Linked DNA regions of Homo sapiens. The protein of the gene in region 1 interacts with the protein of each later gene in a pairwise test. Each region holds a gene or a part of one and is shown in the gene's direction. Other genes may lie near its edges. The genes, in order: ATRIP, MX2, CINP, RIBC2, C1orf94 and CDK16.

The links.
Region 2: the proteins of ATRIP (region 1) and MX2 interact in binary tests that used the Homo sapiens proteins (3 or more experiments, as listed by UniProt).
Region 3: the proteins of ATRIP (region 1) and CINP interact in binary tests that used the Homo sapiens proteins (3 or more experiments, as listed by UniProt).
Region 4: the proteins of ATRIP (region 1) and RIBC2 interact in a two-hybrid assay, tested with the Homo sapiens proteins (one large-scale study listed by IntAct).
Region 5: the proteins of ATRIP (region 1) and C1orf94 interact in binary tests that used the Homo sapiens proteins (3 or more experiments, as listed by UniProt).
Region 6: the proteins of ATRIP (region 1) and CDK16 interact in a two-hybrid assay, tested with the Homo sapiens proteins (one large-scale study listed by BioGRID).

What each region holds. Positions count from the first base shown.
Region 1 is NC_000003.12:48,451,755-48,456,919, forward strand, and holds part of ATRIP (ATR-interacting protein), read left to right. Parts: coding exon 1-145; intron 146-2,545; coding exon 2,546-2,664; intron 2,665-5,165. UniProt on the Homo sapiens protein: Required for checkpoint signaling after DNA damage. Required for ATR expression, possibly by stabilizing the protein.
Region 2 is NC_000021.9:41,359,744-41,365,374, forward strand, and holds the start of MX2 (interferon-induced GTP-binding protein Mx2), read left to right. Parts: upstream 1-2,283; 5' UTR 2,284-2,312; intron 2,313-3,273; exon of another isoform or gene 3,274-3,673; intron 3,674-5,631.
Region 3 is NC_000014.9:102,346,848-102,351,067, reverse strand, and holds the end of CINP (cyclin-dependent kinase 2-interacting protein), read left to right. Parts: intron 1-1,019; coding exon 1,020-1,149; intron 1,150-2,308; coding exon 2,309-2,511; 3' UTR 2,512-2,786; downstream 2,787-4,220. UniProt on the Homo sapiens protein: Component of the DNA replication complex, which interacts with two kinases, CDK2 and CDC7, thereby providing a functional and physical link between CDK2 and CDC7 during firing of the origins of replication.
Region 4 is NC_000022.11:45,415,965-45,421,129, forward strand, and holds part of RIBC2 (RIB43A-like with coiled-coils protein 2), read left to right. Parts: intron 1-1,637; coding exon 1,638-1,982; intron 1,983-1,999; exon of another isoform or gene 2,000-2,213; coding exon of another isoform or gene 2,214-2,280; intron 2,281-3,332; coding exon of another isoform or gene 3,333-3,358; exon of another isoform or gene 3,359-3,395; intron 3,396-5,165. UniProt on the Homo sapiens protein: Microtubule inner protein (MIP) part of the dynein-decorated doublet microtubules (DMTs) in cilia axoneme, which is required for motile cilia beating.
Region 5 is NC_000001.11:34,196,917-34,202,081, forward strand, and holds part of C1orf94 (uncharacterized protein C1orf94), read left to right. Parts: intron 1-308; coding exon 309-997; intron 998-3,855; coding exon 3,856-4,116; intron 4,117-5,165.
Region 6 is NC_000023.11:47,220,016-47,225,180, forward strand, and holds part of CDK16 (cyclin-dependent kinase 16), read left to right. Parts: intron 1-269; exon of another isoform or gene 270-2,245; coding exon of another isoform or gene 2,246-2,327; exon of another isoform or gene 2,328-2,365; intron 2,366-3,035; exon of another isoform or gene 3,036-3,080; coding exon of another isoform or gene 3,081-3,296; intron 3,297-3,536; coding exon of another isoform or gene 3,537-3,542; coding exon 3,543-3,744; intron 3,745-4,369; coding exon 4,370-4,503; intron 4,504-4,602; coding exon 4,603-4,728; intron 4,729-4,818; coding exon 4,819-4,875; intron 4,876-4,972; coding exon 4,973-5,087; intron 5,088-5,165. UniProt on the Homo sapiens protein: Protein kinase that plays a role in vesicle-mediated transport processes and exocytosis. Regulates GH1 release by brain neurons. Phosphorylates NSF, and thereby regulates NSF oligomerization. Required for normal spermatogenesis.

The sequences.
Region 1 (5,165 bases):
CATTAAGAATGGAGAAATTAAAATTTTGCGAGACTCACTACATCAGACGGAATCCGTTCTAGAGGAACAGAGAAGATCACATTTTCTTCTTGAGCAAGAGAAAACCCAAGCACTCAGTGACAAGGAAAAGGAATTCTCCAAAAAGGTGACCCAGAGCATTTGTTTTGCACCAGCTTTGCCTGCCCACTGAGTTCCTTTGACCAGGGTTGCCTGTAAATCTTCCAGGGAGATTTCAACACTTGTTTGTCTTAAATACTTTCTGCTATCATCTCATTGCCATCCACTCTTCTTCCAGGGTCTGGATATATTTTGGAAAGGGATTTAGATGAAACTCTATTTTGCTGTGGTAGTTGGTCTTGGCAGGAGTAAATAACTAGCTTAGCATTTCTAGAAACAGGTTTACATTAAGGCTCTTTTGCTAGATCAGAAACTCAACTGACCTGGCTTAGGCTAAAAGGAAACGTATTGGCTTCCATATCCAAGTCTGGGAAGAACCGGGGTATGCTGGGACCTTAAATGACTTAAATCTTGCCAGGACATTTTTATTCTCTATGCTATAAACAGGCTCTATACTTATGGTAGAGGGTGTGTTCTCCAGAAGCTCCTGGGCTCATATTTTATAAATACAGAGCAGAATTAAGACTTAGGGCCACATGCAGTGGCTCACACCTATAATCCAGCACTTTGGGAGGCTGAGGTGAGAGGATTACTTGAGCCAGGAGTTCGAGACCAGCCTGGGCAACTAGTGAGACCTCATCTCCACAAAAAAGAAAAAGAAAAAATGAACAAAATTATCCAGGCATGGTGGTGTGCACCTGTAGTCCCAGCTACTCAGGAGGCTGAGGTGGGAGAATTGCTTGAGCCCAGGAGGTTGAGGCTGCAGTAAGCCATGATCATGCCATTGTACTCCAGCCTGGGCAATAGAGCGAGACCCTGTTTCAAAAAAAGACTTAGGCTCCCTCATCTCAAGTTTTAAAATTCTGAGAAAGGCTCTGATTGGTTTAACTTGAGTCAGTTGTCTGTCCCTGGCCAATTGCTATAACCAAAAGCAACCAAAAGCAAAAAAATGACAGCTCCCATTCTAATAAAATAGTCAGAGGTAGGGAAATTATTGAATTTTTTTTTTTTTTTTTTTTTTTTTGAGACAGGGTCCAGGGTTTCACTCTCTTGCCCAGGCTGGAGTGCAGTGGTGCAATCACAGCTCACTGCAGCCTTGACCTCCCAGGCTCAAGCAATCCTCCCATCTCAGCCTCCCAGGTAGCTGGAACTATAGGCACACACCACCAGGCAAAGCTAATTTTTAAATTTTGGTACAGACAGGGTTTTGCTGTATTCTCCAAGCCGTTCTCAAGCTCCTGGGCTCATGCAGTCCTCCCACCTTGGCCTTCCAAAGTGCTGAGATTACAGGCGTGAGCCACAATGCCCAGCCTGTTTCTCAGGGAAAGGAAAATGCTATTCTGGAAGGAAAAACAGTAGGTATCCAGTACCTACTACAACTTTCCCTCAGCACCTCCTCATGCTTCAATCTCAAGGACATGGGATCTTATTCTCATTGTTTCATTCAGCAAACTTAGCAAACTTTAAGCACTTACCTGTGCCCATCATTAACCGCAATAGTTAACTTTCTGTATAAGTGATGAAGAGCAAGGAATTTGCGGTCAGACAAACCTGAATTTGAATCCAGGCTTCATCACACATAAGCAGTGACCTCAAGGTAATAACTTAAGCTCCCTGGCTCATTTCCCTTATCTGTTCCAAGACATAACCAGAAAGGTTGTTGGGAGACTCACACATTCTTGCACTTACTGTGTCTGGTGCTGGGCCTGGCGCAGAGTGTGCTTGGGGAATGATGGCAGTTACTGTTGGCTGTAGCAACTGCAGGCCAGAGCAGCAGGTCTCTCTATACTGCACAGTGTCTTGGTAAACTATTCCAACTACTCTGCCCAAACTTTGAGGAAGACCTGGAATTGTGCACCAGTGCGTTCGTTAATAAAGGTCAATATGTTACTGCTGACATAGGGCACCTTACCAAGCTCTATGCTGGGTATTTTACACTCATCATTCTACTTAATCCTCCCAACTATCATGAAGACAGGTGTTTTATGTTACAAATAAGTTAGGATTCAAAGACATTAAATAAATGGTGGGCTGGTATTTAATTCTTTTTTTTATTTTTTAAATTTTTTGTAGAGGCAAGATCTTGCTATTTTGCCCAGGCTGGTCTCGAACTCCTGGGCTCAAATGATCCTCCCGCCTCAACCTCCCAAAGTGCTTAGGATTACAGGCCTGAACCACCACACCCGGCCAGGGCTGGTATTTAAACCCTCACAAACTACCCTTACAATAGAGTCCAGTATCTTTTTAGAGTACCATATTGTCTTTCAGAAAGAAAGCTAATGTTTAATATTTTAGGACATTTATGTCACAGCAGACTTTCATATGTATTTTTCATTGTTTGTCTTTTACTGGCTTGTGATTTTGAAGCCCAGAGATATTTTTGTGTATATGATGGGACCACTACAAGCATGTTTCTTTTGCCTTCCAGCTCCAATCATTGCAGTCTGAACTCCAGTTTAAAGATGCAGAGATGAATGAATTAAGGACAAAGCTCCAGACCAGTGAACGAGCAAATAAACTGGCTGCTCCCTCTGTTTCCCATGTCAGGTAATGATGGTGCTGGAGGGATAGTTCAGTTTTGCATTATTTAGTAAAAAATCTGCATAACAGTGTCAGGCTGGTCCTAAATGAAGGCCATTTAGACCCCTCCACCTGGGCAGAGATCCTCTTTTCCTGAAGGATTCAGAGGTGGTTTAGATGAAGCTTGCATGGTTTGAGACATCACAGCATAAAGGCCTATACTCTAGAAATGCTGCCTCTGTATGGCACTTTATAAACATAATTCTTCAGGACTAGAAAGACCTGGAAAAATGATCTCCAAATTTTGGGGGTGGGCTAGTCTCTACTTTTATGTAATTTGTTTAACTGATTTTGTTGCAAGCATGGGTGTATTTTAGTTCCAGCTACTTGGAATATTTTTTTCTCATTTGCTTTCTGGGGACCCTTGTCCAACAGCCCCATCCTTTGTGGTCAGATGTGCTCAACTTGTTTTTTTTTTCTTTTTTTTTTGAGACAGAGTCTCGCTCTGTCACCCAGGCTGGAGTACAGTGGTACAATCTCGGCTCACTGCAACCTCCGCCTCCTGGGTTCAAGCAATTCTCCTCCTTCAGCCTCCTGAGTAGCTGGGACTACAGGCACACACCACCACGCCCAGCTAATTTTTGTATTTTTAGTAGAGACGGAGTTTCACCATGTTGGCCAGGCTCGTCTCAAACTCCTGGACTCAAATGATTTGCCAGCCTGGGCCTCCCAAACTACTGGGATTACAAGCATGAGCCACTGTGCCTGGCGCAGCCTGGAAATTTGAACAGTGTCAGTCAGGGCATCTTCTGGTTTTGAACTTTCTACCGCCTTTGTTCATAATGGGCAGTGTGTGAAACTGAACTCTCCATGCCTTGCATTGTCCACATAAGACAAGAGAACTGAGGGGATCCTCTTCACACATCAGTAACAGAAAGACCTCAGCATTATATGATCAGATCAGAGAGTTAATACTGCTTCTCTACCATAAAGACATTGGCACTAAGTTGCTCAGTTTTCAACATACCTAGTAGGTTTATCAAAATTATGATATTTATTTTGATAGCCCTTTTTCTATTTAAAGTCTTTGCATTCTATTGGAAGTCTTTTTTTTTTGAGACAGAGTCTCACTCTGTTGTCCAGGCTGGAGTGTAGTCACATGATCTCAGCTCACTGCAACCTCCACCTCCCGGGTTCAAGTGATTCTCCTGTCTCAGCCTCCCAAGTAGCTGGGATTACAGGCACATACCACCACACCAGGCTAGTTTTTTTGTATTTTTTTTTTAAGTAGAGATGGGATTTCACCATGTTGGCCAAGCTGCTCTCGAACTCCTGACTTCAGGTGATCCACCCACCTCAGCCTCCCAAATTGTTGGGATTACAAGGGTGAGCCACTGTGCCCAGCCTGGAAGTCTTGTGACTATTAAAAAATCGTTTGTTCCACATTGGCTGGGTGCAGTGGCTCACACCTGTAATCCCAACACTTTGGGAGGATGAGGCGGGCAGATCACTTGAGGTCAGTAGTTCAAGACCAACCTGGCCAACATGATGAAACCCTGTCTCTACTGAAAATATAAAAATTAGCTGGGCATGGTGGCATGCGCCTGTAATCCCAGCTATTTGGGAGGCTGAGGCAGGAGAATCACTCAAACCTGGAGGCAGAGGTTGCAGTGAGCCAGGATCACACCACTGCACTCCAGCCTGGGCAACAGAACAAGACTCCATTCCAGAAAAAAAAATAGTTTGTTCCACATTGAAAAGATGTTTTGCACCAGGCATGGTAGCTACAGAGGCAATCCCAGCTACACAGGAGGCTAAGGCAGGAAGATTGCTTAAGGCTAGCAGTTCGAGACCAGCCTGGGCAACATAGCAAAACCCCATTGCTACTTAAAAAAAAAATAAAATTACTGGCCCCAGTGGCTCACGCCTGTAATCCCAGCATTTTGGGAAGCTGAGGTGGGCAGATCATTTGAGCCCACGAGTTCAGGACTAGCCTAGGCAACATGGTGAAACTCTATCTCTAGAAATAACTCTATCTCTAGAAAGAATAAAAAGTTAGCCAGATGTGGTGGTTGCACATCTGTAGTCCCTGTGCTACTCAGAAGGATGAGGTGGGAAGATCACTAAGCCCAAGAGGTGGAGGCTGCAGTGAGCCGTAATTGTGCCACTGGGCTCCAGCATGGGCAACAGAGTGAGACCCTGTCTCACCAAAAAAAAAAAAAAAAAATTAGCTGGCCATGTTGATGTGTGCCTGTAATCCCAGCTACTCAGGAGGCTGGGATTACAGATGGGTGGATTGCTTGAGCCCAGGAGGTCAAGGCTGCAGTGAGCTATGATCATGCTACTGTACTCCAGCCTGGGCAATGGAACAAGACTCTGTCTCAAAAAAAAATGTTTTGGTGGAATTGTAAATAGTGATAATAAAGAATAGTAAAGGAATTATGGCTAATATTATATTTTTGGATGATTAGAAAAATATAAAAATGAGTAAAAGAATTTTCAATAATTTGGATCAAAATCCCTGGAAT
Region 2 (5,631 bases), on another chromosome or scaffold:
AGGTGGGCAGATCACTTGAGGTCAGGAGTTCATGACCATCCTGGCCAACATGGTAAAACCCCATCCCTACTAAAAATACAAAACAAATTAGCTGGGCATGGTGGCACATGCCTATAATCCCAGCTACTTGGGAGGCTAAGGTGGGAGGATTGCTTGAACCTGGGAGGCCGAGGTTGCAGTAAGCAGAAATCTCACCACTGTACTCCAGCCTGGGCAACAGAGCGAGACTCCATCTCAAGCAAACAAAAAAGAAACAAAGAGCCAGGTCACACGGACAATGACAGGGTGGAGTTCCACTCCAAGGTGCACCCGCTGCTCCTGTGCTCTGCTGGGAGGGACACACCCCAGGTAAGAACCCTGCTTGTCTACAGCACTTCACCATTGCCTTTGTCCTGTTAATTCAGGAAAGCATTTGCTTGATCTTTCCTTCTGTGATTGGAGAGGCCATGGGAGAGTGGATGCATGCTGGCTCTGGATGGCTCCAGGTGCTGCAGGTGCTTCCAGGTGGCCAGGAACTTCATCAGCACACAGAGGCGCTGGCGCTTTCCATAGAGTCAGCGTGCCAGGGCAGGAGGCGGGCACTGGGGCTTCTGGACTTCGCCTCTTTACCAAGCTGCACACTGTAACGCTCCCTGATGTGGAGCTGAGGGAAGAGCTCCGCCCAGCGGCTGTGACCGAGGCCTGAGCAGCAGCATCTTTTCTGGCCCCGGCCCCTGTGCTTGGATGCTGCGTGGGACATTCATTCACCCTCAGGGCTTTAGTGCTCAGAACGCAAGAACCCTGTCCTTGAAGTTTGCATGCGCAGGCACCTCTGGTCCTTCCCAGGGCTGCTGGTGAGGGGCGTGCAGGAGGGGGATGCTGCCTTGACAGAGGGTGGAGGGTCCCCTGAGCTGGCCCGAGCTGCTCGTGTCCCTCTGTCCGGCTTCTCTGAGGCCTTTCTTTGTGCCTTCCTTGAAGCAGTAGGCCGGCCCAGGCCCTGTTGTGAAAGACATTCCTAGTGAAACCGAATGTCACATCACGCTGCCAAGTCTGAGATTCACATTCCTCCCCTCACTCCTCAGCCTCTGTCCGCCCGGGCTCTTGGGAAGAGAAGTGGTTCAGGGATAGGTGATCCTGACGATGATCTCCTGGTGTTAATATTTCTAATGCCAAGGTTTTGAAAAACATGTTAAGTTTCTAAATATCTTCCGTAAAGTTAAGCCTGCACTCAAGGGAAGTCACTACAATGACTTAGCCAAGAGGAGCTCAGGAGTTTTTTTAAACGTATAGTGTTGATGTCTGGGAGAGGATCACGGGTGGATAGGAGAGCTGAGAGCCTGCTTCCTCCCTCCCAGCCATCACTGCCAGTCCTTGAGAGGCTTGGTCCCCTCCCCGGTGTCTGGAGGGCTCCTCCTGGAGGTTCCCAGACCTCTTGGCTCTGGTGATGGGAATGCCTGGCCCTCCTTGACTTTGGTCACAGAGCAGGAAGCCTTAGGGAGCATGCGGTTGTGCACCTTCACTTTTGCAGGTGAAAAGTAACTGAGGACCAGAAAGATGACATGCAGCTGGCTCAGGGCTGAGTTCCGGAGCCTGGGGTTTGTCCTGGGGCCTCCTTATCTCCAATGGGAAGAAAACCGTCTTGGTTTTGCGGCGGGGACCTCAGGCACGGGTGCTTGGAGAAAGCTGTTGACCCTCCTTCTTTGGGTTTTCCGCACCTAATGAGGGGAGAGGTGACATTTGTCAGGTGCGGCTCAGGCATGAAGCTAAGCAGGACAGCTCAGAGCGTCCAGATCATGTACCTGAGAGCATGTCCTCGGCTGTAACAGGAGTGCATCTGTGAGGCCCGATACACGAACCACACGTGGCTATTCATTCAAATTACATGGAGTTCGAAGTCCAGTTCCTTGGTCGCAGTAGTCACATTTCAGAGCCACACAGGTGGTACTGGATGGCACTGTCAGGGCAGAACCTTCCAGTGACTGAGCCACTCTGAGCTGCCCCCATGCCAGCCTCCCCTGGAATCTGTTAGCAATGCTGATTCTCAGGCCCAGCCCAGACCTGACAGATCAGACTCTCTGGCGGGGGTGGGGGGACAGCCGCCCCGTCTCCACAGCTCTCCCAGGATTCGGATGCAGCTGGAGTTTGGGGACCACTCTGTGAGTCATCTGGAGAGCACGCTGATAACTCAGTTTCATTTCTGTGGCCAGATCAAGTAGTTTCATTTCTCTCCCTGTTTGTTGATGACGGAGCAGGGGAGGGAGTGGTTCATATGCCACATAAAAGTGAAGTGGAGGAAAGGGAAGAGATGATTTCTCCATCCTGAACGTGCAGCGGTAAGAGCGGGGCCGGTGCAGGGAGGGCTGCTTTGTGTCTGATGCACAGCAGATGCGTGTTTAAAAAATATTTCCTGAGTAACGTGACATCTGCTTGGTGAATGTGGCTTGTGCTGGGAGGCAGGAGCCACAAAGATAAGATTCTGGTGTGAGGAGCAGAAAGGGCCCATGTTGCCACCAGCCCACAGTAGCCTTGTGCACAGACAAAGAGGCTCTGGAGGGGAAGTGGCTGGCCCTGGGGACAGGGTGGCCTCCATCCTGATCTGGCCAAAAGTCGGGTGGACGCAAAGGGGTGGTTTTTAGGACAGCTTTGCTCAGCGTCCTACAAAGTCTGGGGGTTGAGTAAGGAGCTTTGTGCCCGAAAAGTCGTCTCGGAGGGTTTCAAGTGTTCCTTCTTTTGTGGTATTTGTGATGCTCTGACGTAACCTTAGTGACGGTGATATGCTGGGAAATTGGCTCTCATGGGGCGGGGCAGGGCAGAGGGTGGTGCCTGATTTCTAGCCTTTGCCGATTCTCTTCCGTTCTCATGGTGTGAATGCTCCCACCGTGGCCAGTTCCCAGCCAGTAGGGGCCAACTCCAGCACTCTGGACCACTGCACCCTGGATCGCCTGCACTCTGGGGGCTGAAGTCCATTTTATAATTGATATAGAGCGGAAAGGAGACATGGTGGTATTGATGACGCAGTTTTTTTTTCTTTTTTTTTTTTTTTTTTTTTTTTTTGAGAGAAGTTCTCGTTCTGTTCCCCAGGCTGGAGTGCAGTGGCGTGATCATGGCTCACTGCAGTCTCAAGCTCCCGGGCTCAAGGGATCCTCCCACCTCAGCCTCCCAAGTAGCTGGGACTACAGGTGTGCACCACCACACCTGGTTAATTTTATTTCTTTTTGTAGAGACAGGGGCTCTCTATGTTGCCCAGGCTGGTCTCAAACTCACTGGCTCAAGAAGTCCTTACGCCTCAACCTCCCAAAGCACTGGGATTACAGGCGTAAGCCACCCCATTCGGCTTTGATGACACCTTTTGAACACTGTTCTTTCTCATTTTGTGTTTAGAATGTTGTCTCTAGCTGTTTAAAAAGATCAGGATTCCAAGCTATCTTTCCTCGCACCCTCTCCTCCGTTTACTCTGCTCTACTTCCCAGCCCCGCGCCAACCCCTGAAGCACTTTTGACTCCCTTCGGATGTACAATTTTTTTTTCTTTTTCTTTTTTGAGACAGGGTCTTCCTGCTCTGTTTCCCAGGCTGGAGTGCAATGGTACCATCATAGCTCACTGCAGCCTTAAACTTCCGGGCTCAAGTGATCCTCCTGCCTCGGCCTCCCAATGCATTGGGATTACAGGTGTGAGTCCCTGCGTCTGGCCAGGATGTATGTGAGCTTTATTTAGGTTTAGCCCCTGCCCTAGAATGCAAGCTCCCCCAGAGATCTTTGTCTGCCTGACTCGATATGTATCTCAAGGACTTAGTGCTCAATATATATCTTTGAGTGGGTGAAAAACAAGCGGTCTTAAAAAGAAAGGAGGTGAGCCCGGGGAGATAAGGTCGCATTCAGTGCCAGTGCTTGGTCAGCCATGACCCTGCACCATGCGAGTGACATTGGGACTGGAGCAAAGGGACACAGCAGAGTGGCCCCTGGTGCCCAGGACCCGGCAGAGCTCTCGGACTGGTTGCAAGCCAGCAATAGTGGCTATGCCCGTGTGGGAGACGCAGCTTGCCTTAGACTTCAGCGGGAACCACCATGTCCGGCACAGCCATTTCCATCCTTCCCAGGGGTGCTTACGTGATCCTGGCAGTCTCAGTCAAACTTCCAAACTCAGCAGGGAATGTGTGTGCTTGTCCTCCAATCTCAACACCCTGGGATGCAGTGTCAGGTGCAGGTCAGAGACAGCAGTGGAGACCCGATTCCCAGCCCTGGGCTGGGGCCCCCACAAGGCCTCCAGCATCTCCCCATGGCCCAGTTTCCTCATCTGCAGGACAGGCTCTCTTGAGAATTTGGGGGGATGATAGACCCAAAAGCATTCTGGAGCCAGAGGCTTCTGCCTTCGTCGGGGGCATCAGGGAGTGTCAGTCATGAATTCACCATGACTTCTGACCACCTCTGCCTGGACTCCCTCACCTCAGTGCTGCCTAAGCTGGGTAACCACCAGCTTCCTGGGCCTTCACCCCGCAGGGCCTTCCTCTCCAGTGATGCGCCTGGAAAGAGGGATTTCTCTTTGCAAAGGTCTCTGGAATTGCCAAGTTATGGCTTTAAGCATATGTAGGGAAACTCCCTCCCCTTTGCACTTTTGGAGTTTTTTTCCAGCCCTCAATAGAAATCAATACAGTGACCAGGCTGCCCTTTTCACCACACTCTCAGGCTCCTGAGGACCCTGGTGGAAGATGGACTAAGCACATCCTGGGCATCGGGGACAGGCACCGGCTCCTCAAGCGTGGACAGGGACAGGGATGGGGCGGGGCAGCGCTGCAGGAGGTGGGGCCTGGGCTGATTTTCTTGCTGTACTACTTTCAGTCACTACGTACCTGTTATGGGTTGAACTAGGCTCCCTGTATTAGTCAGAGTTCTCTAGAGGGACAGAACTAATGGAATATAAAAAAATAAATATATACATATATATGGAAGTTTACTAAGTATGAATTTACAGGATCACAAGGTCCACAATAAGCAATCTGCAGCCTGAGGAGCAAGGGGAGCCAGTGTGAGTCCCAAAACCTGAAGAACTTGGAGTCCAATGTTCGAGGGCAGGAAGCATCCAGCACAGGAGAAAGCTGTAGGCTGGGAGGCTAAACCAGTCTCTCTTTTCACATTTTTCAGCCTGCTTTATATTCTAGCTTTGCTGACAGCTGATTAGATGGTGCCCACCTAGACTGAAGGTGGATCTGCCTTTCCAAGCCACTGACTCAAATGTTAATCTCCTTTGGCAACACCTCACAGACACACCCAGGATCAGTACTTTGCATCCTTCAACCCAATCAAGTTGACACTCAGTATTAACCATCACACCCCTCAAATGTATATGTTCAAATCCTAACCTCAGAACCTCTGAATGTGACCTTAGTTGGAAATAGGGTCTTTGCAGATGTAATTAAAGACGAGGTTGTTTTCCAGTAGGGTGGGCCCTAATCCAATATGACTGGTATCCTTATAAAACAGGAAAATTTGTTTGTTTGTTTGTTTGTTTGTTTGTTTAACTTCTATTTTAGGTTCAGGGGTCCATGTGCAGGTTTGTTACATGGGTAGATTGTGTCATGGGAGTTTAGTGCACACATTATTTCATCACTCGGGTAATAAGCGTAGTAGCCAATGGATAGCTTTTTGCTCCTCTCCTT
Region 3 (4,220 bases), on another chromosome or scaffold:
CGGATCACGAGTTCAGGAGATCAAGACCAGCCTGGCCAACATGGTGAAACCCCGTCTCTACTAAAAATACACAAATTAGCTGGGCGTGGTGGCACATGCCTGCAATCCCAGCTACTTGGGAGGCTGAGGCAGGAGAATCGCTTGAACCAGGGAATCAGAGGTTGTAGTGAACCGAGATCTCGCCACTGCACTCCAGCCTGGCACTGCACTCCAGCTTGGCAACAGAGCAAGACTCCGTCTCAAAAAAAAAAAAAAAAAAGAGAGAGAGAGAGAACATCAGAAACGAGCTCATTTGATAGAGAGACAGAGAGCCTCAGAAACGAGCTCATTTGATAAAAGAGAGAGAGAGAGAGCATCAGAAACGAGCTCATTTGATGCCTTTCTCTCTCACTTCTTAAAAGCAGCAAGAGCCAGCCAGGCGCGGTGGCGCATGCCTGTATAATCCCAGCACTTTGGGAGGCTGAGGCGGGAGGATTGCTGGAGCCCAGGAGTTAGAGACCAGCCTGGGCAACATAACGAGACCCTGTCTCCACAAATTAAAAAAAATTAGCTGGGTGTGGTGGTGCACACCTGTGATCCCAGCTACTTGGGAGGCTGAGGTGCCAGCGGTTGAGGCTGCATAAGGCATGATCATGCCACACAGAATGAGACCCTGTCGCAAAAAAAAAAAGAAAAAAAAAAAAAGGCAGCAAGAGCCTGCCTTGGGATTCCTCCAGGTCTTTGGGTCTAAGACATTAATGCTGTTTGGAAATCCTAGTGAAATGGCACTCGGAAACCTTTCTTGCTCTAGGACTGGAAATCTGGGGTTTATTACCAAAGTCATTCAAATTAATGAAATCATAGCAACTGTCCACCTTCATCTCCCTGGGAATTTGCTGTACGTAGAGTTAACAGTGTTTAGTTATTGGAATTTTTATCATAATAGACTTACACTTCTTAGCTTTGAAATCTTAGAGTTATTAAATCTGAGACTGGAGATTTCAAATAATATTATCATATTCCAAATGGATATCTTTCAGACCAAAATACAGGTGAAAATGGAAAAGCTGTCTTCAACTACCAAGGGAATTTGTGAACTAGAAAACTACCATTATGGGGAGGAGAGTAAACGACCCCCTCTGTTCCACACGTGGCCTACAACCCATTTCTGTAAGTAGTTCCTTCTCAGTTGATTTTCAGGAGGGTAAAGGTTATTAAGGGCATTTAGTATCGTTTACATCTGGTACTTTAAGAAGCTGACAAGGCTTTCAAATTCAATGCAAAAGTATCGGGAGGAAAGGAGACAGAGGCATCTTAAACATTTCTTCTTGGCTTTAATTACCTGGTTATCAGCAGAGTATATGAAACATAGAGACCCGTGAAGCAAGCTGCTGTTATTAGGCCTCTAAAACCAATGGGCAGAGTGAATTCCACCTCCTCTGTGGAAGCAGATATCTCTCATTTTGAGGGGGGGAAAGGAAGAAAGGAGTTTTTTTGGTTTGTTGAGGTTTTTCTTTTGTTTTTTGTTTTAATTAAAAAACAAATTGAGGGTCACTGCAGCCAACCTCATGGAAGATGACTGGGAAAAATGAAACCCATGGCTTCAGTAAACTCTATGAGGCGCTTCTTAAAGGGTTACTTTTAGCTTTTATTAGTTCAAGACAAGGGTAAGCTATTTGATGTTGACCTGAGACTTTTTAAATAAGGCAGGAAAGGGTAAAATCACCTAGTGGAATGTGTTTAGTGAAATATTGTCAGTTTGAGGGGAATCTCCTACTGATAATCACTGTAGGTCACCTAAGAGTCAAGTAGAAAAGGTTATATATACTTTTTTTGAGACAGAGTCTCGCTCTGTCACGCCTGCTGGAGTGTAGTGGTGCAATCTTGGCTCACTACAGCCTCCGCCTCCCAGGCACAAGCGATTCTCGTGCCTCAGCCTCCCAAGTAGCTGAGATTACAGGTGCGTGCCACCACACCTGGCTAGTTTTTGTATTTTTTAGTAGAGACAGGTTTTCGCCACGATGGCTAGGCTGTTCTCAAACTCCTGAACTCAGGTGATCCACCCACTTGGGCCTCCCAAAGTGCTGGGATTACAGGTGTGGGCCACCACGCCCGGCTTGTATACACTTTTTATTTCACTCTGCTGACCATGTTATCAAATTGTACTAATCTGCACCAGCTAGAGTAGTAAACTCCATCGGGCCCTTCTTCCCCTCAGTGCTGTTGCTGATTCTGGTTTTTAATCAAGAGCTGTTAAAATGTAGTTCTTCCCAAGTCGACACTATGTTCTTGAATCACTGCCATTAAGGGAGATTCACGTTTCTTTCAGATGAGGTTTCGCATAAGCTCTTGGAGATGTACAGGAAGGAGCTGCTCCTGAAGCGCACGGTGGCCAAGGAGCTTGCCCACACCGGGGATCCCGACCTCACCCTGAGCTACCTGTCCATGTGGCTGCACCAGCCCTATGTGGAGAGCGACAGCAGGCTGCATCTGGAGAGCATGCTGCTGGAGACAGGCCACCGAGCTCTCTGACGTCCTGAGACGGCTGCGGACACTGGCTCCTTCCACGTCTCACCAGGCAGACAGTCTGCCTAGGACCCAGTGCCGCAGGCCTGGATCAGACCCCAGGATCAGACCTTGGGGTCTTCTGGCCAGAGCTTGTCACCAGCCCCATGGCCTCTCCAGGCGTGCTCATGCCCACAACCCGCGGCCAGCCCCACGTGGTGCTGCTCAGCCTTCTCTGCCCCTCCTGGGAATCTGTCATTCGTGGGTGCTTCAGAGTAAAATCAATGAGTTTCTGAGCAGAATGAGTGAGTGATCTAGTTTCTATAAATTAGGCATGCTTTATACATTATGTTTGTGTAGAAAATCCCTGGTTTAATATTTTTACTTTATGCCTATCTGATTGTTGAAGTTTTTATGAGACTATATTAGTTTTTGGGCCAGGTGCGGTGGCTCATGCCTGTAATCCCAGCACTTTGGGAGGCCGAGGTGGGCGGATCACTTTAGGTTCGGAATTCAAGTCCAGCCTGACCAACATGATGAAACCCTGTCTCTACTAAAAATACAAAAATCAGCTGGCGTGGTGGCGCGTGCCTGCAATCTCAGCTACTTGAGAGGCTGAGGCAGGAGAATGGCTTGAACCGGGAGGCAGAGGCTGCTGTGAGCCATTGCACTCCAGCCTGGGCGACAGAGTGAGACTTCGTCTTAAATAATAAGATCCCATGGAGTTAAAATGAAGTTTGACATCATGAAAATGAAAATAACCTACAAAAAAATTGCCGCTGTTTGCATACTGGGGACATGGCAAGCGATGTAAACTGCCTTCCCTGGCATTCTTCTGACACAAATCCTCGAGTTTCACAATGTTTGCAGCCATTTCCAGAGTTAACATACTAGGTTAGAATGAGGGAAAGGTGACAGTTTTGAAACAGACCGAAGAGACTGGCCAAAAGCTAGGGCATGGGGAGAATGTGAAGGTATGCAAAAGCCTACTTTTTTTTTTTTTTTTAATGGAGTCTCGCTCTGTCACCAGGCTGGTGTGCAGTGGCACGATGTAAGCTCACTGCAACCTCCGCCTCCTGGGTTCAGGCGATTCTCATGCCTCAGCCTCCAGAGTAGTTGGGACTACAGGCACGCGCCGCCACACCCAGCTAATGTTTGTATTTTTAGTAGAGACGGGGTTTCACCACATTGGCCAAGATGGTCTCCATCTCCTGACCTCGTGATCCACCCACCGCGCCCTCCCAAAATGCTAGGATTACAGGCGTGAGCCACCGCGCCGAGCCTGCAAAAGCCTAAACTCTTTTTTGTGGCATTACTTGTTACATGGTTTCTACATCTGCGTTTGCCTTTTTGTAAGTTCTCTGATCCCAAACTGTTTATATTCTGTGGGACTGTGTATAGAGTGATACTTAATAAACAGCAGTTTTAGTTTTTTGGTTTTTATGAGATAGGCTCTTACCATGTGGCCCAAGTAGTGTCAAACTCCTGAGGTCAAGTGATCCTCCCTACTTAGTCTCCTCAGAGACTACAGTCATGCACTGCCCAGCCCAGCAATAATGTTGTTGGTGTTTTTAGATACAGGGTCTTGCTCTGTTGTCCAGGCTAGAATGCAGTGGCATGATTGTAGCTCACTGTAATCTCAACCTCAAACTCCTGTGCTCAGGTGATCCTCCTGCCTCAGCCTCCAGAGTAGCTGGGACTGTAGGTGTGCATAACCACGTCCGGCTAATTTTTTT
Region 4 (5,165 bases), on another chromosome or scaffold:
GTTGGGATTACAGGCATGAGCCACCAGGCCCAGCCCCCACGCACTATTTATGCTTGTACTATTTATGTATGTATTCATAACAATATAAAATTGTTTTTATGTGTTTTTAAAATTTATGTAAATGGTATCCTATTGAATAGATCCATTTGCAGTATGCTTTTCTTTCATCCAGGCTTGTATTTTTGAAATTAATCAGTGATTTACATATAGAGAGTATTCATTTTAATTGTTTTATGGCATTTTGTTATATGAATTAACTACAGTTTCTTCATCCATTCCCATACTGATGGCTGGTTTAGATTTTTTTTTTTCAGTTGTTTTGTCATTGTGGACACTGCTGCAATGACTGTCCAAGAATTGTGTCCCTAGCACATGTGAAAGGGATAACTAGAAGTGGAATTGATGGATCAAAGGTAGTTTTATGGGATATTGAAAAATTGTTTCGTTGTAAGTGTACCAAGTTACACTCCTACAAGCAGCAAATGAGAGGTTTTTGTTTTGTTTTGTTTTGTTTTTGAGATGGAGTCTTGCTCTGTCACCAGGCTGGAGTTCAGTGGAGCGATCTCGGCTCACTGCAACCTCTGCCTCCCGGGTTCAAGCGATTCTCCTGCCTCAGCCTCCCAAGTAGCTGTGACTATAGGCACGTGCCACCAAGCCCAGCTAATTTTTGTATTTTTAGTAGAGACGGGGTTTCACCATCTTGGCCAGGATAAGCTCTATCTCTTGACCTTGTGATCCGCCCACCTCGGCCTCCCAAAGTGCTGGGATTACAGGCGTGAGCCACCATGCCTGGCCGCAAATGAGAGATCTTGTTTCCCCACATCCTTACTAATGTGTGCCATTATTAGCATTTTAAATATTTTGCCTTCGATTCATTGGATGTTTCCCACCTTGTATGGGTGATCATCCTTTCATAATTGTATTGATTACTCAGGTTTTTTTTTTTTTTTTTTTTGAGACAGAGTCTCATTCTGTAACCCAGCCTGGAATGCAGCGGCGTGATCTTGGCTCGTAGCAACCTCTGCCTCCTGGGTTCAAGCGATTCTTTTGCCTCAGCCTCCCGAGTAGCTGGGACTACAGGCTCCTGCCACCACGCCCGGCTAATTTTGAATTTTTAGTAGAGACAGGGTTTCACCATGTTGGTCAGGCTGGTCTTATACTCCTGATCTCAGGTGATCCGCCCACCTCGGGCTCCCAAAGTGTTGGGATTACAGGTGTGAGCCACCACACCCAGCCTCAGGTTTCTTTATAGTGATCTGCCTGGCCGTTCCTACACTTTGCCCATTTATTGGGTTGGGGTTTTGGGGTTTTTTTAATTGATTTGTAGGTACTCTTTGTATATTCAGGATACTAATCCTTTAATGGCTGTGTTACTTTTTTGGAGGGTTGTATTACTTTTGCAATCACTGAAAAAATTAGTTTTTAAAGTAGATTCATGGGCTGGGTTCAGTGGCTCACTTCTATAATCCCAGTGACTCAGGAGGCTGAGGCAGAAAGATGGTTGGAGGCCAGGAGACCAGCCCAGGCAACATAATGAGGCCCTATCTCTAAAAAAGTAAATAATAAAAAATAAAATGGATTCAAATTTATTTTTTCCTCTGAATCCTAAGCTTATGGATATGCTGTATCTCTTCCAGCTGCTGAAATGAGGCAAAATGACAAAATCATGTGCATATTGGAAAACCGGAAAAAGAGGGATAGGAAAAATCTCTGTAGGGCTATCAATGACTTCCAACAGAGCTTTCAGAAGCCAGAAACTCGCCGTGAATTTGATCTGTCCGACCCCCTAGCCCTTAAGAAAGATCTTCCAGCCCGGCAGTCAGATAATGATGTTCGGAATACGATATCAGGAATGCAGAAATTCATGGGAGAGGATTTAAACTTCCATGAGAGGAAGAAATTCCAAGAGGAACAAAACAGAGAATGGTCTTTGCAGCAGCAAAGGGAATGGAAGAACGCCCGTGCTGAACAAAAATGCGCAGGTAATGAAACAGAAGAGACGAGCTGGTCTCAACGCTCTCTTCAACAAACCAACCCTACAGTTTTTTTTTTTTTTTAAGCAACCCTACAGTTTTTTTTTTTTTTTAAGCAACCCTACAGTTTTTGTGGGATTTGTTTAAAGTCCTACCAATGTGCACAGACAGCCACATGCTACTTTGGCCCTGTGGGGAAAGAAAAGTCAGAGCCTGCCCTCCAGGAGGGAAACACCTGCAATGACACCTCAGTCATGTGGAAAACACTTTCCGTGTCGGGGTCCCAGTTGGATGCCGGCGTGCAGAGGTAACTCAGAATCGGTCCCTGCCCTCCCAGTCTGCGGGGAAGGTGAATGGGAAAGATGCAGGTCTTCCTGAGTCTCTTGGGTGCTGTGGTAGAAATTCCTACAGGGGACTTTGGGGGTGTAGTTGCAGGCATGGTGGTCACATGCCCTCACCAGGACTCCCCAAGCCCAGGGAACCTCTTGGGCAAAGGCTCCAAGGCATGAAACAGCCTCTCATTGAGGGAACTGCAGAAAGCCCCATGTGTCCTCACTGAGGTCAGCAGCATTCTGCTCTCCCAGCTCCTCTTCATGCCTGCACTCGAGCAGCACTGACCCGCCCAGCCACTTCTGTGCCGGAAAGACCGGGTAACGAAGACGACAACATCCCTGCTCTCTTGGGGTGTGTCAGCGGGTGATGGAATAGTGAGGAGCTATGAGGAAGACAAAACAGGGACCAGGCACAGAGAGGAATGCACTCCGCCTTCTTGAGCGCCTCCTCTCTGCTTGTTAGTTTGCAGTCTCCTTGCTCGGCCCATCCTCCTCCAAGCCTCTTCTCTCCCCAGTCTACTCTCCATGAGTGATGTCTCCCCAGATCATCTTCTCCCATTCTTCTCCCACTCCTACCAGATTTATGCCCTCCCTGCTCCACTGGAACTGCCCTGGCCAACCTCACCAGTGACCTCCATGTCGCCCAATCCAAGGTCGGTTTTTGACCTTCATCTGGACCTAACAGTCGATCACCTCCTGCTCCTGGAAATGCGCATGCAATTCAGCTTTCAGAACACCACTCTCACATTAGCTCCCTTCCCATCCAGGTCCTTTGTTGGTTTCTCATCTGCTCAACCTCTGGATGTTGTTCACACCAGTGCTCTCCTCTACCAGCTAAACTCACCCGAGTGATCTTGTCCGGTCTCATGGCTTTAAATGCCACCTATAGGCCATCATTTCCCAGGTTTATACCTCCAGCCTGGACTCTTCCCTGAATCCAGACTCATAAATTCATCTAACTTCTCTTGGATGTCTAATGCACTTGTCAAGATCAGCACGAGTCCAATAACTCTGTTCTTCCCTGCAGACCTGACCTTCTACCCACATCCGTGACAGCTCCTTTCTTCTAGCTGCCCAGGCCCCAGCCCAGGTAATCTTGACTCCTTCCTTTCTCTCCATTTTTCAGCTACTTTCCACACCCTCCAACATTCCCATTCTGAACTAAGGCTATCAGCATCTCTCGGCTGGGCGCAGTGGCTCATGCCTGTAATCTCGGCATTTTGGGAGGCTGAGGAGGAAAGATCACTTGAAGCCAAGAGATCAAGGCCAGCCCGGGCAACAAAGTGAGACCTCATCTCTACAAAAAATTAAAAAGTTAGCTGGGCATGGTGTCGTGCCCATGTAGTCCCAGCTACTCAGGAGGCTGAGGCAGGAGGATCACTGAGCCTGGAAGGTCAAGGCTACAGTGAGCCGTGATTGTGCCACCGCCCTCCAGCCTGGCCAGCAGAGTGAAACCCTGTCTCAAAAAAAAAAAAGACCGGGCACAGTGGCTCATGCCTGTAATCCCAGCACTTTGGGAGGCTGAGGCGGGCAGATCACGAGGTCAGGAGATCAAGACCATCCTGGCTAACACGGTGAAACCCCATCTCTACTAAAAATACAAAAAATTAGCCGGGAGTGGTGGCGGGTGCCTGTAGTCCCAGCTACTCGGGAGGCTGAGGCAGGAAAATGGCGTGAACCCGGGAGGCGGAGCTTGCAGTGAGCTGAGATTGTGCCACTGCACTCCACCCTGGGTGAGAGTGAGACTCCATCTGAAACAAACAAACAAAAAGCATCTCTCAGCTGCTCTTTGGGTCTCTCCCCTTATCCTACAGAGTAAACATTTCACTCAGAGTAAACGATTTTTTTCAGAGACCTACAACGCCTTCACAGTCTGGCCTTATCTCCTGCTATGCTGCCCTCTCACTCCATTCTTTCCACACTATCTTGCTGTTTTCAGACGTGAGTATATCAGGCTCACTTCTGCCTCAGGGCCTTTGCATGTGCTGTTCCCTCTGCTTAGAAATGTCTTTCCCCAGATATCTGTAGGGATCACCACTCTCCTCCAGGGCTGTGCTAAAGTGCTATCTTATCAGTGAGGCTTCCCCTGACCCCCCTATTTTAAACCCTGTACCCTCCTCCCACCCCACATTCCGTATCCTGTTGCTTAATTTTTCTCCATAGCCTTGATCACTGACGTGTTGTATGGTTCATCCATCTCCCAAGTGGTCTAAATTTCCACCTCTGGCCAAAAGGCTTTGTTTCAGCTGTGGACTTGGTTCTTCAGCAGTCTCCTTGACATCTCACAGGACCCTTCACAACATGTCGGAAAGCAGCCCTGGATCCTCTTCTGCATCTGCTCCTTTTTCCATCTTTCTCCTCCAACTAACTGGTACCTCCTGCCCTTAAACCAGAAGTCTAGGGAATCATCCATGACCCACCCCTGACTCCAGGCCATCTCTGACTCTTGTCCCTTCTACCTCCTGCATATATTTTGAACTGTCCGCTTGTCCCCATCCCTGCTGTCACCCTTGTGATGCAAGCCACCATCTCAGCTGAACAGACCTCTGCCAAGATCTTTCTGATGGCCTCCACTTCCTTTCTTGCCCCTCTCTGGTCCATTCCCAAAACAGCAGTCAGTGATACTTTTAAACAATGTGGAGTTTGGCCAGGTGCAGTGGTTCACACCTGTAATCCCAGCACTTTGGGAGGCCGAGGTGGGTGGATCCCCTGAGGTCAGGAGTTTGAGACCAGCCTGGCCAACCTCTGCCTCCCAGGTTCAAGTGATTCAACACTGTTCTTACTTTGGGAGGCCAAAGTGGGCAAATCACGAGGTTAGGAGTTCAAGACCAGCCTGGCCAACATGGTGAAACCCTGTCTC
Region 5 (5,165 bases), on another chromosome or scaffold:
AGAACAAGGAGGAATGGACTAGAATTAAGGCTCAGTGAGGCTGTGACTTGCCCCAGCTCACTCAGCAAGGTTGTTGGGAGAGGATCCAGGTTTCCCCATTTTTCAAAACCATGCTCTCAGTGCTGCATCCTACCGCTGTGGTATAGGACCCTCTGGGGGTCCAGTGTGTCTGCTGGGTTATCTTGCCTGGAAGTGTGTTTTTGTCATGTTATGCATCCATCTCCCTTTTCTGGGGCCTATGTCCTTCTGCAAAGCCACGCCTTGGTGAGCTGGCACTAACACCGTCTGTCTCTCTGACCCATTTCCAGAGCTCTGGAGCTCAGCAGTGGCAAAGATGAGATCTCCTTGTTGGTGGAACAGGAGTTCCTAAGCCTCACCAAAGAGCACTCGATCCTGGTCGAAGAGAGTTCTGGGGAGCTGGAGGTACCCGGCAGCTCTCCCGAGGGGACCAGAGAGCTGGCTCCCTGCATTCTTGCCCCTCCTCTAGTGGCAGGCAGTAATGAGCGCCCCAGAGCCTCCATCATTGTCGGAGACAAGCTTCTGAAGCAGAAGGTGGCCATGCCCGTTATCAGCAGCAGGCAGGACTGTGATTCTGCCACTTCTACTGTCACAGACATTCTGTGTGCCGCCGAGGTCAAGAGCAGCAAGGGGACAGAGGACAGGGGCCGCATCCTAGGTGACTCCAACTTGCAAGTCAGCAAGCTTCTGTCCCAGTTCCCACTGAAGTCCACTGAGACATCCAAGGTCCCTGACAACAAGAATGTGCTGGACAAGACAAGGGTCACCAAGGACTTCCTACAGGACAACCTGTTCAGTGGCCCTGGACCCAAGGAGCCCACAGGGCTGAGCCCATTTCTGCTGCTGCCTCCCCGACCTCCTCCTGCACGTCCTGACAAGCTCCCTGAGCTCCCTGCTCAGAAGAGGCAGCTCCCAGTGTTTGCCAAGATCTGTTCCAAGCCCAAGGCTGACCCTGCTGTGGAGAGGCACCACTTGATGGGTGAGTGGGGTTGGAACTGGGGTAGAGTGGGCCTGCAAGGAGGAGGTCCTTCCCAGGAAGCCAATCAGGGCTGCAGCATGTACATAAAGCATCTTCATGCAAAGCAAGACAAAGCAGCCTCTCTGGTGGGCACAGCCCCGAGGGACGGGCTGTTTCCAGCCCCCACAGGCTTATTTTGCTGGGTTCCCCTGTGCAGGGCACAGCTTTTGTAAGCAAACCCAGAGGCCCTGATCTCAACATACTTTGAGAAGAGAAATAGGCGCCATGTAGTAATTGGCTTAACTTTGGAATCAAACGGGTGTCCAGAGTACATTGAAGGAAGTGTTTACCCTAGCTGGGTTCAGGGTGAAACTACAGCATGGAGATGCCAAGATGTATAGAAGAGAAATTTGATTGGTAGCTGGGGTCATTTGGCATCTATCTCATGGAGGTACCTTGAGGACATGAGGCCTGGTCCTCCCTCTCTGGGGTATTGGGTAGATGCGTAAATTATCCAGGCATAGTGCAGACTGTTGACTCTGGGATCTGTTTCCTGGGACTTACTTTATTGAGGAGCTCACATTCTTCCCAGGAAAGCCAGCCACCTCCCAAGCTTCTCCTACTTTATGCCCAGGATTCTGTGTGTTGTTCTGATCTAACCAGTCAGACTATATGGTTCCAAGAAGGTAGGCTGATGGCCATGGCCATTGCCTAGAGTCAGCAGTCACTAAGAGAGTGATCATACTCATGTTAGCCAAAAGAACAATTTCCTCTGGGCTATGAGCATGGATGGATAACTGAGAGACACCCGTATTGGGAGGGTCCAAATTAATCTACCTGAGAAAATAAGAGCAAAGTCATCCTGAACATTCTGTGTCCTGGAGCATTGCAGGAAGGCCAAGGAATCAGAGCTGTGGATAGCAAGCTGAACTCTGGGTCCTGGACAGGCTTCTAGGAGCCAGAGGGCTTTAGGATGGGGAGCTGTAGGAGAGAGACGGTTGAGCTCTTCCCAGAGAGGAGACCTTCCTCCTACCTCTTCTCCAGAAGGGACCCATAGATATTTCCCTGTTGGATGGGGCTGCTGGACTGGAGGCAGTTCTGGTCCCACCCACCCCACCCACCATTGGTGCATGTCTGTGTGTACGAATGTGTGAGCAAAAGTGTGCCAAAAGGAGTTTTGAAGGTTTTAGTGTATTTGTTAGAGAAAATGCAAGAGTGGTGTGTCTAAGCATGTCTGTGTACACATTTGTGCATATGTCTGTCATGTATGTACTTGTGTATGTGTAACTAAGTCAAAGGAACAACAGATAGGAGTGTGTCTATGTCTGTGTGCCCAGACCTGGGACGAGGGAGCTTCGTAGATGTTTAAGGCATCTGTAAATATGAGTGGGAAGCTGCAGGTGTGTGTGTCTCTGGGGAAAGGGCTATTATCAGTGGGTACTGTTATTTCAGCTCACAGGCTAGGGGCTGAATTCGGCAACCGGAGGAACTCCTGGAAAAGACTCTAGGGATGTTTTGCTAAAAATGTTGTTTCCTTCTAAATTGGCTCAGGCTAGAGCAGCTCTTTCCTTTGCTGGAATAGTGCTAGGAAGACAGCCTTAGCCCCGAAGCTCAGCCCCCAAGCCGCTGGGCTAGGGGGCCAAAAGCTGGTGGGATCTGGTCTATTATTATCAACAGGTAACACTGAGGCACAGGTCCTTTCTGGCTGCATCCAGACAGATCCCGGTGCCTGCTATTGGGCAGCACAGTGCACAGCCATCTGGTGGGTGGCCAGGTTTCCCACCACTGCTGTGGAGGATCCTGTGATGGTCCCCAAAGTATGTCTGCATTGGGAGAATAAATGCTCAGTCTCTTTAGTGAGAAACCTGTGTCTGCCACCAATCTTGTCCCTGCTCCACACTCTAGCCATATCCAGTGACTCACAATGTCTCCTTGATGCTTCCAGGCCTTTGCCCACAGTTATCCCTGCCTGCCATGCCTTCCTCCCCAATACCCCTGGATGTAAGGCCTCGCTGCAACCCTACTTCCTTCTGGAAGGAACCTTCTCAGACAGAAGCAGCCTCAGCCACCCTGTTCTCCATTTCTTCCCTCTGCCACCTCATGGTGTTCATCTACCTTATCCTGGGGCTATTTCTGGGCATGTCTCTCTTTTTTTCTTGTTATGAGCTCCTGCAGGGCACAGTCTAGCTCTGACTCACAACTGTGTCCCCAGCACTCAGGTCAAGGCCTGGCACTGACAAGTGAGCTGAATCACCTGTGAGTAATAAAACAAAAGTAGAATCCAGAATGAGAGACCAAAGTGTGTGGCTCAGACCACATGTTCTGTAAGAATGTGTGACTCCTTCACTAAGCCATGTGCTCACTGAAGGCAGGAACTGTGTCCACAACATCCTTGTTTTCGCAGCCTGGCACTATGGATGGTTGGAGAGAAGGAATAGTGGAAGGAATGAGGAAAAGTAAGGAAGGAGAGGAAAGAAAAGAAAGGTAATTCGAATAAAGGAATGATGGAAGGAAGGATGAAGGGGTGGATGGATGGAAGGAAGGCAGGAAGATAAAGATGGATAGTCAGACAAATGGATGGACAGATGGATGGATGGATAAGTAGACGGATAGAAGGAAGAAAGGCAAAGATGATGGACAGATGGGTGGATGAATGAACAGATGGATGGATTGATGGATGCATGAGATCGGGGGGCAGGGGCCAGGGAGGGTTTCAGGGAGAGATTGGGATTGTATTTGGCTGAAAGAGAGTCCCCCAAAGTGGTCCAAGCCTCAGGTGTGTGCTGCAGAGGATTCATCATTTAGTCCACAAAAAGGTGCTTCCAGCATCCAGCACTTGGCCTTCCAGAGGCATTGACTCAGTTTCTTTCCTGCTACAGAATGGAGCCCTGGCACCAAGGAGCCAAAAAAGGGTCAAGGGAGCCTCTTTCTCAGCCAGTGGCCCCAGAGCCAGAAGGACGCCTGTGGTGAGGAGGGTTGCTGTGACGCAGTGGGCACCGCATCACTGACCCTGCCGCCCAAGAAACCTACATGTCCAGCCGAGAAGAACTTGCTCTATGAGTTCCTTGGGGCCACCAAGAACCCAAGCGGGCAGCCGAGACTTCGAAACAAAGTGGAAGTGGATGGGCCGGAGCTGAAATGTGAGCTGACCTACCCAGGGAGGGATTGGAGGGGAGGGGGTTGCAGTGACCCTCACAGGCTTCAGGGTGGCTCTGTCACCAAGTGGCTGTCTTATCTACTGCCTTTCTAGAGGTGTCAGTTTTTAAACCCATAAAATGGGGGCAATGACTTTCTCCCCATATCCCTTGTTGGGAATACAGTTGCTAGAGAAGTGTAGTTGGCTTTCAAGGGTCACGTCAGCATTATTAATGGTCACTTCTGAATATAGCCCTGACCCAGCATGTATTATATCCTCTCAAATTGCCCAAGCCAAAACAAAAGATCCTTGCTTTAGATTATTTCTATATTGAGATTATGTTCCCGCTTTCTTTTCCTACAAGGGTTCTAGTCAAACCTCTTTTCCCAAAAGGATGCCAATAAGGGGAAACTGAGGACCCATTTCTGATTTTATAAGCCCCCACAACATCTTGTAGAAAGGAAGAATCCAGGATTCTGATCTTGAAACAACTCAACCTAACTTCATTTGTTTAGACCAATTTTGAGTCACTGCATGCTGAATTATTTAATGTTTTAAAATATAATTTTTAAAATTCCCATATAGATACAACAACCTGTGAAAGTTTCTTAGTGTTGCCAAATATATGTCCTTAGGGAGGGGCTGCTTTAATCATTTGATAAGGATGAATTCCAATGGCATAGCAATGGTTCACATAAAGTTGGATTTTTCCAAAGCAGTTGAAAGAATTTCATTTTGTAAGTAGGTGAAATATAGGCCTAGCAATCTGGCTTATTGTATTCCCTTGCTAAATTGCCTTCTTTACTAGTGAATGATGGAAAGAAAAGCTCCAAGCCAGACCTTCTGGGATTTTCATCCCTTCCAAACTGGCAAGGTGTGAACTAATGATGTTTACCTATAGTTGGAAATGTACTAGAACTTTGAAGAACCCTCTTGGAGCTTAAAGGACCTGACCTGTGAGACTGTGAATCCCTAAGGAAGTTGCGATGCTGAAGGTGTCCTGGCCTCTCCCTGCCTCCATCACTGACCCGCTTTGCCTCTCCTGTGACTTGC
Region 6 (5,165 bases), on another chromosome or scaffold:
TTAGTGGACGAAGGGTAAAGGTGATGTGAGGTGTGAGTGTGTCCATGGACACAGGGAATGTGAGTCTCGAGGGCACACTAGGAAGGAGCAGGGTAATAGAAGTACTGGTGGTTGCTAATGTGGGTTTAGAGACATAGAGGCACTTCAATGTGTGCCATTTCGAGAGTCAGCTGTGTGAAGTCTGGAATATGCTAATAAGCATCAGAACCTTGTGAAGATTGTGCCCTTGTGTCCGCGGAGGACCAGAGTATGTTGAGGTTCCAGGGGGTGCTACTCGGGGGTAGGGCTGCGGAGGGGATCTAGTGTGTAATAAGGGGGATCAGGGCTTTCATGAAGGGATCTAAGTGTGAACCAACAAGGATTATATCTGTGGAGATATCTCTGAGCAGAGAGCAATAGAGGACAGGAATGTGTGATGATCTCGGTGTGCTAAAGTGGATTACAGCTAGGGAGGGCTGAAGTGTGTGCTAATGGGAGTCAGGGCTGAATGAGACCTGTGTGCACTAATGAGGGTCAGGCCATGGTAGAACAGTGTGTTTGTGTGTCCCTGCGGAATAGGGCTGAGTAAGGGTTCAGGGTGCACTAATGGGGAGGCAGGACTGTGTGAGGCCCGGCGTGTGCTAATAGAAATCAGGCCTGAGTGAAGACTCAGTTTGTGCTGACAGAGGGGACAGGACAGTGGAAGGACTGGAATGTGTGTTAAGGATGGTCGTAGCTGTGAAGGGGCCTGAGTGTGGGTAACACTGGTTAGAGATCTATCTGTAAGGTTCACTTTATGTTAATAGCATTCAGAGCAGCATGAAGAAGGTCCAGTGAGTGCTAATGTGGGTCAGCTATAGAGTACCCCAAGTGCATGTTAATAGAGGTCAGAATCATGTAGGGGGAACAGTACGTTAATGAGGGGAGTCAGTACTATGGAGAAGGTAACAAGCAGCTAGGCCAGGGAGGGGCCCAAGAATGTGGTGGCAAGAGTTACTTAGAGGAGGCTAAGTGTGTGCTGACAGAGTTCAGGGCGGTATGTTATGTGTTAGGGCTTTGAATGCTGATGGGTATATGAGATAATAGCAGGTAAGATGTAGTGAGGCCTCCTTGAGGGTCTAGCGTGTATTAATGGGGATCAGGACATAGGGTGCGATGACCAAGTCCTTAGTGGTTGGTGTGTTGAGTATCCTTGAGTATGAGAGTAGTCTGAGGATGGGTGTATGTCTTTGGGGATCAGGAAGGGTCAGGCAGGACATGTGCCTTTTTTGGGGTAAGGTTTTATGTCCAGTTTCTTGCTCCCTCCTTTTTTGAAATCTAAAAAGCTCATTCAACTGAAATGATATTTAAAAGTTTCCTTGCGTATAAATGTTCAATTATCTCTGTTCACAGGGGCATGTCTGAGACCCCCATCCCCCTTTCTGGGAGTGTTATGTGATATACAGATTTTACACCCCATCTTCCTAAAATCCCAAAAAACTGAACTCCAGAGCATGTCCAGCCCTTGGGGTTTCCAGTTAGAGGTCGTGGACCCATGGCTCCTCCTGGCTTCCTCCCCATCCTCCATTCAGCCCTACTTCCAGTCTCCCCCAGCCCCTCCCCTACTCCCTGTCACAACATGCAAAGCAACTGGGTATCTGTGCCATATGGGGACACAAGGTTGTCTTTGGGAGCTGGCCATGCTTTACCTTCCTTGCCTTAGGCCCAGTATTCAGCCTCCCAGGTCAGGATGTTTTGTGGTTATCCTGGGTTCTCCATGGATGGACCTCATCCTGTATCTGAGGTCTTTCTGCTAGGGTGGCCCCTACCCCTCCTGGGGATAGTGAGTTCAGCCAGGTGGGGGCGAGAACTGCTGGGGGAAGCACCTGATTTCAAGGTAGCAGATGACCCATTTCTCTCCTCAAATCCAGCCCCAGTCTCATCCTCGACCTCCTATCTAGCTCTACTTCCCTTGGGCCCAGGGCCATCTTAGGCCCTGCTGTGAGTCCAGATGGTTCCTGGGTCAGGTCTTTCCCCCTCCTTGCTGGCCCAGAGCCCAAGAGGAAGCAGAAGACGGCTGGCCTAAGCCTTTTGGTGGCCCCATTCCCTTCAGCAATCCATCTAGGTCATCTTCCTGTCGATGCCAGCATCCCTGGGCTACCTTGTTTAGGGTTGTTCAATGAATAGCAGGGACTCATCACCTCAGCAGAGGTTGGTCCTAGGCCCTCAGCCCCCTGATTCACTTATTTCTGCCATAAGCACTTTTTGAGCATCTACTCTGTGTCAGTCACTATTCCAGGTCCTCAGGATATAGCCGTGACCTAAACACAGAAATCTACCCTGGCGGAGCTGATCTTCTAGTTGTGGCGGTGAGGAGATAGACAGTAAAGACTAAAGAAACCAATAAGTAGGTGGTGTCATTTCTGAGGAGGTAATGAGTGCTGGGGGGATAACTGGCAAGGTGAGGGAGTTCGGGATGGTTGAGATTTTAAATAGGGTTATTCACAGAGGCCTCATGAAAAAGGTGACCTTTGAGCAATGGCCCAAAGGGAGAGGGGAGTGAGCCATTTCGAAATTTAGGGGAAGGGTGTTCCAGGTACCAGGAACAGCCAGTGTAAAGGCCCCGAGGTGGGACTCTACTGGGTGTGGTTGCAGAACAGCAACTAGGAATGATGGCGGGGGGGTGTGGGGGTGGGGGGGGGCCGTGGGCAAGAGGCAATAGGGGCAAATGAGGTAAAGAAACACCTGTGGGCCACATTGAGGACTGGGGCGTGTATTTGGGGTGATGAAAAATGTACATTCTTGAGTAGAGGAGAAATGTGACTTGGCTTGTAAAAGTCTAGATTGGACCCTAGGGGTCCTAACCTGATCAAACCGTTCTGGCAGCCCTGAGAAGAGCTGGTGTACACTGAGACCCCCCCGCCCTCCACACAATCCCACCCAGTGGTTGGGTCTGGGCAGGACACCCTGACACACGCTCCCCTCCCCCCCCCCACCTGGGTAGATGAATGGGATGATGCAGTGGTTGTCATGACGATGAGTGCTAGAGAAGTCAGGAAGAGGGTCCCTGTGGCCACAGGGAATAGTCTGCCTTGGCCTTTGAGGGTGGTGCTAGGGGAACTATGCCACTCTATGGCCGTGCTCGAGACCATGTCACCCATCCTTCAATTCTGGGCACACGCCCTGGCCGACCCATGGCTGGGCCCATCACTGCAGCTGTACCTGAGAAGATCTGCAATGGAGCCTTCTGCTCCTGCAGTGGGGCTTTTCCCCTAGATCCCAACAATCCATCGTTAGGGCCCTTGCCCTCAATCAGCCACCTAAATCTGAGAACTCAGGTGGGCTACGTAGGAGCAGGGTCCCAGTGGGGCTGGCTGTGTGGGTGGGCAGGTACTGACAAAGATCCCCATCCATGCTGGGTTTCCAGAACTCCTGAGTGGCTCTGGGGTCCATAGTGGTTGAGTGAGCACTGACAAGTTCATGTCAGTGCCCCCTGCTAGGCTGTGGGCTTTAGGGAACCCATGGTGATCAAGCAAATGCTAATAAGAGACCCATTTCCATCCTTGTCCCTTGCTCAGATCGCCATGGATCGGATGAAGAAGATCAAACGGCAGCTGTCAATGACACTCCGAGGTGGCCGAGGCATAGACAAGACCAATGGTGCCCCTGAGCAGATAGGCCTGGATGAGAGTGGTGGTGGTGGCGGCAGTGACCCTGGAGAGGCCCCCACACGTGCTGCTCCTGGGGAACTTCGTTCTGCACGGGGCCCACTCAGCTCTGCACCAGGTGGGTCCACTGGCTATCCCCTCTCCCATATGGCCCCAGGCTGCTTCCCAGGTGTTGCCTCCTGGTCACATTCCTCATTTTCCTCTAAATTTTCTGCCCTTTCTCTGCCCCCCATGTGCTCTCTTCTCCCCCTTCCCTCCCATCTTCTCTCAACACCGTCTGTCTATCTGTCCATCTGCGCTCCTCTTCTTGCCTTTCTGCCCAGGCCCCGTGGTGGGGGACAGAAGGTGCCTTGCCTGTCACAGCTGCCCCAAGGCTCCCTCTGCCCTTCTGCCCTCTATGATGGCCTCCTCAGTCCTCTGGTACCTGCCTGCCCTGGGCCTGCCTTCCCAGGACCCTTGGCTTCCCCTGCCACCACCTAGCTGCCGGCTCTGAGCTCAGCTTGCCCTTGGAAGGAAGGGTTCCACTAGGTGACTTTTGCTTCCCCACCCCCCAGTTCAACCTGCCCTAGATGTACCTGAGCTTCCCTGGGCTCAGGTACATCACCCTCTCCCCGAGGGACTCCAGGTTTCCTGTGGGGGCCACGTGCACACATGTGTGATGATGGAATATGTTTCGTGGGGGATGGGGTGTCCTGTGGTTCCTGACCCCACCTGGCCTGCCCTACCCCTCTCCCTGCCACCAGAGATTGTGCACGAGGACTTGAAGATGGGGTCTGATGGGGAGAGTGACCAGGCTTCAGCCACGTCCTCGGATGAGGTGCAGTCTCCAGTGAGAGTGCGTATGCGCAACCATCCCCCACGCAAGATCTCCACTGAGGTGCTTGACCCCGTCTGGATGGTGGAGGAACTGGAAAAGGGGGTTGGACCTGGGGAGGTGGAGCTCATGATCCTGTTTCTCTCTTGCCTTACCTGCTAGGACATCAACAAGCGCCTATCACTACCAGCTGACATCCGGCTGCCTGAGGGCTACCTGGAGAAGCTGACCCTCAATAGCCCCATCTTTGACAAGCCCCTCAGCCGCCGCCTCCGTCGTGTCAGCCTAGTAAGCACCTTCTGTTCCCGTCCTCTCCTTTTTCTTCTCTCCCAGACCCTTCTCCTGAGCCAGCTTTAACCTGCCTCATTTGTCCCACAGTCTGAGATTGGCTTTGGGAAACTGGAGACCTACATTAAGCTGGACAAACTGGGCGAGGTGAGAGGCAAATAGGAGGCCCATGGTGGGGATGAAGGTCAGTGGGAACTCCTGGAATCTCATAGCACCTCTCCTGTCACACTTCCTCACATTCCAGGGTACCTATGCCACCGTCTACAAAGGCAAAAGCAAGCTCACAGACAACCTTGTGGCACTCAAGGAGATCAGACTGGAACATGAAGAGGGGGCACCCTGCACCGCCATCCGGGAAGGTACACACCCCCATCCCATCTGCCCCAGGCTTCCCCAACCCACCCCTGGCGCACACACTCCATAATGAGAACAAAGAC